Linked DNA regions of Homo sapiens: all the other regions are linked to region 2. The links come from fine-mapping of genetic effects on gene expression. A gene starts in region 2. Each other region holds a variant in brackets. All regions are shown on one strand. Distances are between the middles of the regions.

Evidence for each region. PIP is the estimated chance that this variant, and not a neighbour inherited with it, causes the effect.
Region 1: its variant is fine-mapped to the expression of UBE2J1 in esophagus muscle (GTEx, PIP 0.99).
Region 3: its variant is fine-mapped to the expression of UBE2J1 in whole blood (TOPMed, PIP above 0.99).

What each region holds. Positions count from the first base shown.
Region 1 is chr6:89,923,374-89,926,137 of GRCh38, reverse strand. No RefSeq gene overlaps it. Among named protein-coding and RNA genes, the nearest start is that of GJA10, 30 kb to the right of the region's middle. The variant A/G (reference allele first, on the strand shown) is at 1,113.
Region 2 is chr6:89,351,316-89,354,079 of GRCh38, reverse strand. UBE2J1 (ubiquitin conjugating enzyme E2 J1) reads left to right here and starts at 1,358. Exons shown (of 8, transcript NM_016021.3): 1 at 1,358-1,541. The coding sequence starts at 1,511. RefSeq lists silencers at 897-996, 1,007-1,716, 1,747-1,806 and an enhancer at 1,103-2,052.
Region 3 is chr6:89,329,556-89,332,319 of GRCh38, reverse strand. It overlaps UBE2J1 (ubiquitin conjugating enzyme E2 J1), which reads left to right. Exons shown (of 8, transcript NM_016021.3): 8 at 2,363-2,764. The coding sequence ends at 2,641. Among named protein-coding and RNA genes, the nearest start is that of GABRR2, 16 kb to the right of the region's middle. The variant G/T (reference allele first, on the strand shown) is at 1,492.

The DNA.
Region 1 (2,764 bases), 570 kb before region 2:
AACACCAAGATGCAGTGAGTTGCAAGGAAAGATGTTTAGAATTGTGGTTGAGGAATCCATACAGTCATGCATTGGTTAGTGAAGGGGGTACGTTGTGAGAAATGCATCCTTACGCAATTTCCTATTGTGAGAACATCAGGGTGTGCCACACCAACCTAGATGAGAAAGCCTATGACACACCTAGACTAGATGTTCCTAGATTGCAAACTTGTGCAGCATGTAACTGTACTGGATATGGTAGGCAATTGTAACACCAGGGTAAGTAGTTGTGTATCTTAACATAGAAAAGTTGCAGTAAAAATAGGGTTTACAATCTTATGGAACCGCTGTCATATATTCGTCCCATCATTGACCAAAACATGGTTATGCCATGCATGACTGTACAGTTTAAAAGTTGTATTCTAAAAGTGTATTTGATAGTTATGTCTTCGATTTTGATGTAAAGAGAAAACAAGATATCAAATGGTGGGCAGGTCGAGTGACCATGAGCGAACACTGGACTGGAGCTCGGAGGTGAGAGAAAGCCACTAGAGCAGAGCAGGGGGGTCTGAGCTGTCAGCGAGGCTGTAACCAGTGCATGCGCATGGTATCCGGGCAGGGCAGGGCTGTGCTGCCGAGATTCACGCTTCAAGGAGTGCATGCGACCGCCAGATGGGAAAACGGAAATTAAAAACTGCCAAGTTCTGCTCCCTCGGGCGAGTCTCCATGGGCACCTATGGAGTCAAGGAAGGCTTCCTGAGAGCAGGTCATGGGTTTTGCAAATGTGTGCTGCTGTGACAACGTCGCAGTCATAACATTTTCGGTACAAGAGGCGGATTACCTACGCCTGAAGATGTGAAGTTAATCCACTCTGAGAAAAACAGGTGGGTCAGAGTCCCAAAATTTTCTGTGGGAAAACCTGGTAATTTAGAACTGATGGTCATGTGCACCTTCAACCCTGACATCTGCTCTTGTGATACAAATAATGGTCATGCATTGAAGGAAAATAAACCTCACCAGCTGTTGCGTCCTGCAAAACAGGCGTCCCCGACCCCTGGGCCGCAGACTGGTTCCGGTCCATGACCTGTTAGGAACAGGCCGCACAGCAAGAGGTGAGCAGCTGGGGAGTGAAC[A/G]TTACTGCCTGAGCTCCACCTCCTGCCCCATCAGCGGTGGCACTGGATTCCCATAGGAGCGCGAACCCTACTGTGAACGGTGCATGTGCGGGATCTGGGTTGCAGCTCCTTATGAGACTCTAATGCCTGATGATCTGAGGTGGAACGGTGTCATCCCGAAAACATCCCCCCACCCCCGCTGCCTCTGGTCCGTGGAAAATTTGTCTTCCACGATACCAGTCCCTGGTGCCAAAAAGGTTGGGAATCGCGGCTACAAAAGAGCTTTTAAGCACTGTCCAGCCCCAGGTGGACAGCAGCCATTTTCTTTCCTACTTTACATGTGCTTCTTATGGGAAATTTGTATCTGCCTCTGGGGCAGTGAGGACAGGTTCCTTCTACACCAGGCCCTGCCAGCAGTTTTGTTGTATGTATTTGGAAATAACTGAGCTGTTCTTTGAAATCATTTTAGAGTCTTTCACTCTTCTCCAACCCACCACCTCACCCAACTCTGCCCCACCACTTGGGATGCATTAGCAAGATTGTACTTAATGTTTAACAGCAGCTGGTGAAGGTGCCGTGAGCAGAAATGGGTTTCCAATTCTCCTCACTGAGCACCTATGCCTTCGTGGTACAAGTGAACACAATACTTCCTGGTGTCAAAAAATCAAGGCCCAAAGAGATGGAGAAAGCCACACATCCCATTACGCAAGTGTCTTTCATTTCACTCAAGAGCATGACGCCTTCTGTCTCCACACCCGTCCCTGGTTCCTGCAGATCCTGACACACATCTGCCACTGGCCTGCTTAGCCACAAAGAGGCATTGCTGATTCTCCATGGCTAGTTCTTACTCTTTCTTCTTGAAGATAAGTGCATCCCTGAGACAGTGCCCTTCATCCCGAAGCAGTGAATGGAAACCTTCAGAGACATGCTAGCAGTCACTGGAAACATTACATTTTACACTGGGCCCTTCAGACTTTGTTTTTTCTTCTTTGTAGAGACAAGGCCTTGCTATGTTGCCCAGGCTGGAGTGCAATGGCTATTCACAGGCATCATCATAGTGCGCCGCAGCTGTGAACTCCTGGCCGCAAGAATCCTCTCACCTCGGCCTCCCAAGTAGCTGGGACTACAGGTGGGCCACCAGGCCCAGCTCAAACTTGTTTTTGTTGTTGTGTTGTTTTGAGACGTGCTCTGTTGCCAGGCTGGAGTGCAGTGGTCCAATCTTGGCTCACTGCAACTTCCGTCTCCCAAGTTCATGCGATTGTCCTGCCTCAGCCTCCCAAGTAGCTGGGACTACAGGCGCACACCACCACACCCAGCTAATTTTTGTATTTTTAGTAGAGACGTGGTTTCGCCATGTTGGCCAGGATGGTCTCGCTCTCTTGGCCTCATGATCCCCACACCTCGGCCTCCCAAAGTTCTGGGATTACAGGCGTGAGCCACCACACCCAGCCTCAAACTTGTTTTTTAAAACCTCCATTTGTGCTGTGTTTTTGACAACCCTGTAAAGACTTTTCAGAGTGAAAGAAATTGAAATTACAAAAAAAGTTGCCATAGAGGCCTCTGAAACCTATTGACAAACTTATTGACACAACATGACAGAAAGTGAATAAGAAATAAAGACTGGAAAATTGGAAGCAATGGGTAAGGTATTGCCTTTGGTGTTTATACATAAA
Region 2 (2,764 bases):
CAGTTTACTATACAGAAAACAACATCAGGGAATGATTTAAAATATACCATCTAATTTTAGATATCCTTCACTTTTTTACTCCCAATTTCATCAAGAAACTCACAGATTTAGATTAACTTTAACAATAGAAAACAAATCAAATTTAAGAGTTTATGTCTTTATATAACAGAATAAAACTTGCCCAACCTGATTAACCCTTTCTATCCTCCCCACCTTCCCAATCCCTCCCTCCTTTCCTTTAGTAAGGTCCCTACTCCTTAAGTCTTTTGAACTCAGTCCTCTCTCGATCCCACACATTGGACAATGAAGCAGTAAGTGTGTCCTTTGAAGTTTAACCTTTCATATTTGTATGCTTTCCCTCACATTAAATGTAATTCCTTTTTTTGACAGCTTTTACATCTAAACAAACCAAAAAAAACAAAACTCCTGCAATGCCTAAAACATGTCGTGCACCTAACACACTACCCGAGAAAAAAATTGTTATGAATATCCAACTCTGGCCAGAGCCGTGGCTCACGCCTGTAACCCCAGCACTTTGGAAGGCCGAGGCGGGCGGATCGCTTGAGTCCAGGAGTTCGAGACGAGCCTGGCCAACACGGTGAAACCGTGTCTCTAACAAAAATACAAAAAATTAACCGGGCATGGTGGCACACACCTGTGGTCCCAGCCACGCTGGAGGCTGAGGTGGGAGGATCGCTTGGGCCCGGGAGGTAGAGGCTGCAGTGAGCCAAGATCGCGCCACTGCATCCCAGCCTGGGCGACAGAGCGGTGACACCGTCACACACACACACAAAATAAAAAATAAAAAAAATCCTATTCCATTTCCTTGTCACTGGCTTTCCCCCTCCTCACTTAACCCCCGCCCCTCGCAACAGCAACTGAATCTAAAAACAAAGCCTTTCCCAGACCCTGCGGGACCGCGCGCGGGCAGCCGGCTGCGGACAGCTTTGCAGCCGGAGCCCGGCGCCCCCTCCGAGCTCTCGAGGGCCCGGGGGTCCCGGACCTCGCCTACAGCGGGCAGGGCCGGGACGAGAGGACGAGGACGCCGCTCGCTCCTGCACCTCCCCAAGCCGGCTTCGCCGGGCGGGCGGCGGCTGGGTAGTGACCGACCGCCACGAAGCTACTGCCACGTCAGGGCAACTTCACAAATCCCGGACGAGGGCGGGTGACGCAAGCCGGGCGGCCGCGGCAGGGCTGGGCCTGCGACTACCCGAGGAGGCTGACCTCCAGCCCGGGCGCCCGGTTCAGCGCCGCCCCGGCCGGCGCCGGTGCCTGCCAGGCACTCAGGGAGGCGGGGGCGCAGTGGAGGAGGCGGCGCCATCGCGAAGCGAGCGCCTCGCCCGCACTCAGCCTTGCCACCCCGCCCGCAGTCCAGGCTGGACTGGGCGGCATTTGCCGAGGCTCCTCGGCCAGGCCCCGTCCGCCCGAGCCGCGCTGAGACCCGGGCAGCGGCCGCGTGGAGAGGAGGTGGCAGCGGCCCGGGAGGCCGGAGCCAAGCCAGCGACCCACCATGGAGACCCGCTACAACCTGAAGAGTCCGGGTGAGCAGGGCTGGGGCCCCTGGGCGAGGAGGGCGGAGTGACCCTGGACCCCGGGGTGGTCGCCGCCTCGGTCCCCTCGCGTCTGGCGCCACTCGCGGCTCAGCTCCTGGTTTCGCGCTCTACGCGAGACCGCCGCCTGCCCGGGAAGTACAGGCCGCAGGGCGAGGTGGCCGGGTGGACGTCCGCTGCCAATCCCCCGGCCGGCCAGCGCGCCCCGCAGCACCCAGCCTCTCCCTTTTCTCATCTTCGCCTGGTCCCGTAGAGCTGGGTCAGAAACTCATCCCTGAGAACAGGTGTAAAGGTGATGTCGGTGGGCGATAGTCATCAACCCCCTCGCTGTACCTGGTCGCTATTCCCTCCCTGTCGCTGCCACCGGACTTCTATTTACTTCTATTTACTGCCGGCTGATTTACTCACATTTGAGGAGTTGGTCGTTTAAATATCCTATTTGCAGCACTTGGGCGAATACAATTACAGACATAAAGGAAATGTTCTGTAACTAAACCAGTTAACTATAGAGCTAAAGCAAAACAAAACAACAACAAAAAAACACCTCGTTGAGCCCTGTTCTTGAGAGCTAACCTTGATTTTTGCCAGACTGGCTAATATGAAATGTATCTGTATTCAGTCGTAGCGATTCCTTTCCTGCATTTAATGATCCTGCTTTATATTTACACAAGCAGTCCCAGCAATCCTAGCCTCTAATTACTTTCTGGTGCATTATAAAGATAAGCAACTAGCTTTCTCAGCTTAATAAAACAGGCTTGAAATGAATCATTGGATCCTCTAAATGGTATTTTTTCTATCTGTACCTTGATACATTTTGTCAGGGGGAAGAAACTCCACAGTTAACTCTGCATGATAAACTCTAGGATATTAGTGATGATTTCACCAACTTTTGCTGTTGCTTAAAATTTCCTTCCAAAAAAAGCTGTTTCTCAGTAGGAATTAGCAAGACTAGCATCCTTGTGGAAAGAGTTGACACTGTGAATCTTTGGGTTTTTTGTAAGGTTTCAGAATATGCAAAAACCCCAGAAAAGCCTGAGGATATTGATTGGAGGGAGCTTTGTTAGCCTGAGTGCTGTCAGGCTAAGAAATGTCCTTAGGTGACCAAGTGTGTAGAACTGGTCATAATATTTTAGGAGCCACTGACTCCTTAAAAAAATCTGATGAAGACCTGGCACGGTGGCACACGCTTGTAATCCCAGCACTTTGGGAGGCTT
Region 3 (2,764 bases), 22 kb after region 2:
TAAGGATTATGGGAAAAAAATGATTTTCCTTCCTATATATAAAAGATTAACTGTCTTTGGAAGTCTTTTTGGTAACAGATTGTTTGGTTAAGTAGTCACATTTTTTTTGTTGTTGTTTCTCCAGTTTATTGAAGACTTTAAAGGGTGAGGGAAAATTGAAATAGAAGTTGGGCAAATATAGATTTGCCCTTTACCCAGCAATAACGTACGTAAAGTGGGAGTGAATAGTCTTGAGTGAGTCTCTCCTATTCAGAGAGTGAGCTGGGCAGAGAAAAGTTGGTTGAAGAAGAACAGGGTGGTAGTCTAGGGGGACTGAAGATGGAGGTCCAAGAAAAAAGTGTGTAGCGATGAGTTTAAATCATTTTTGTGTGATCCCAATGTAATTTTATGAATTGCAGGGGAAAACAATGAATTAATTTTAAGGTCAATATGTTTTAGTTCAAGATATTGAAAAAGCTTTCTAATTACTTTTTATTTCATAGTTTTTTTTCTAATAGAAGCATTCTATTACAAAAAGGAAGGTGGTAATCTTTTTTCACCTTTTAGGACAGCCTCCTAATGTTTGTGATGTATTTAAATCTTTTGTGTATTTTCAATCTATGTTAAGTCCCCTTGTTACATATTCCAGTTATACTTATTCCAGTTGTAATTTACTTTGTAATTATTTATTGTCTATCTCTCTTCCCAGAATGTAAGTTCTGTGAGGGTCAGGGGTCTCTTTCCGCTTCTCCACTGTATCCCCAGTGCCTGGCTTAGTGCCTTCTATATAGTAGATTGCCAATGTTTGTTTGTTGATTGAATGAATGAATCTTAGGATTGGTACTTTAAAAAATGCTAAGAATACAATTAAATAAATCAAGAAGTTTAAGTAAATTAGAGTGTACAAATAATGATGTTATTATAGTAGTATTTCTTGTTTTGATTTAGTACATAAAACTTAGAATTCTTATTCATAGATACAGGTCATTAATTGAGACTATTTTTAGTGAAAATACCAACAAGCAATAAATTGTCTAAAATTGCAAGTTAAGTTTTTAATTATATTTACATATAAACTATCTCAGAGTATGATTATATAATTTGACCACTATGAAAGTAACTGAAACCTGGTTTGGCTAAGGGTGGTTATTTTACATTAAGTATAATATAAATTAATTGAGATGTTATACATCAAATCCCAGATAAGCTATGATTTTTTTGTTGTTGTTAGCCTGAAGGAGAGGCAAGAGATTGCCACAACTCTAAATACCTCAGATAACATCAGGCCATCTGTTGCTTTTTAATGCAGATATTTTAGCATCAAAAAGCAATGGGAAATGTAGAAATGGGAAAAACACTGAAGGCAGTTTTGTTCTTGCAGTCTGTCAGATTTTCTCCTTTTCCCAGGGTAGGGATCGAGGTTCTGAATAAGCCATTTCATTTTATAATAAAAAGCAAAACTCCCTCACACATGCTGGTTATTCTAGAAAAATTTATATATATATCACTAGG[G/T]ACTTAACTAAGAATGTGATTTTTTATCTTTTTAAGGGAGAGTCTCACTCTGTTGCTCAGGTTGGAGTGCAGGCATGTGATCATAGCTCACCGAAGCCTCAACCTCCTGAGCTCAAGTGATCCTCTTGCCTTAACCTCCCAAGTAGCTAGGACCACAGGTGGGCATGACCACACCTGGCTAAGTTTTAAAATTTTTCTGTAGAGATAGTGTCTCACTATGTTGGCCAGACTGGTCTCAGATGCCTGGGCTCAAGCAGTCCTCCTGCCTCAACCTCCCAAAGTGCTGTATGATTGTTTTAAATAGGAAAAAATTTAGAATTTTATAATATCAAGGCACTTAATTTTTAGTTAGTGATATACCATCCAAAAGGCATCTGAGGCTGGGCACGTTGGTTCATGCCTATAATCCCAGCACTTTGGGAGGCCAAGGCAGGAGGATCGCTTGATCCCAGGAGTTCAAGACCAGCCTGGGCAATGTAACAAGATCCCATCTCTAAAAAAATAATGATTAAAAAAATAGAGACAAAAGGCATCTGAAACATAGGAACCTAATTAAAACATTATATGTATATACATATTTTCATTAAGCGTATGTGTTAAAATATCATCTAGACCAATGTTTTAAGGGATTGTTTTTCTAAATATATTAATAAAACTATTAAAAGGCCAAAAAGCTGTCCTAACTTATGACTTTTTTTTGAACCTAAATTTAGATGCCCCTCAAGGGATGTATTATTAGTAACAATCATTCTTGGTAGTGTTGCCCTTAGTCATATGTTGTCCTCTGAGATTGTGTATTCTTGAATAGATAACAAGTGTATTTACAAATCTTCTTTGCCAGTTTCAAACAAAGTTTCTTAAAATTTCCTAGTACGGACTCCAGAATTCCTCAGCAGCATCCTTTCATCAACCTACCCAACCTGTAGCTAAGAATACCTCCATGAGCCCTCGACAGCGCCGGGCCCAGCAGCAGAGTCAGAGAAGGTTGTCTACTTCACCAGATGTAATCCAGGGCCACCAGCCAAGAGACAACCACACTGATCATGGTGGGTCAGCTGTACTGATTGTCATCCTGACTTTGGCATTGGCAGCTCTTATATTCCGACGAATATATCTGGCAAACGAATACATATTTGACTTTGAGTTATAATATGGTTTTGTGACTTATGAGCTGTGACTCAACTGCTTCATTAAACATTCTGCATTGGGTATAATCTAAGAATTGTTTACAAAAAGATTATTTTGTATTTACCCTTCATTCCTTTTTTTGATC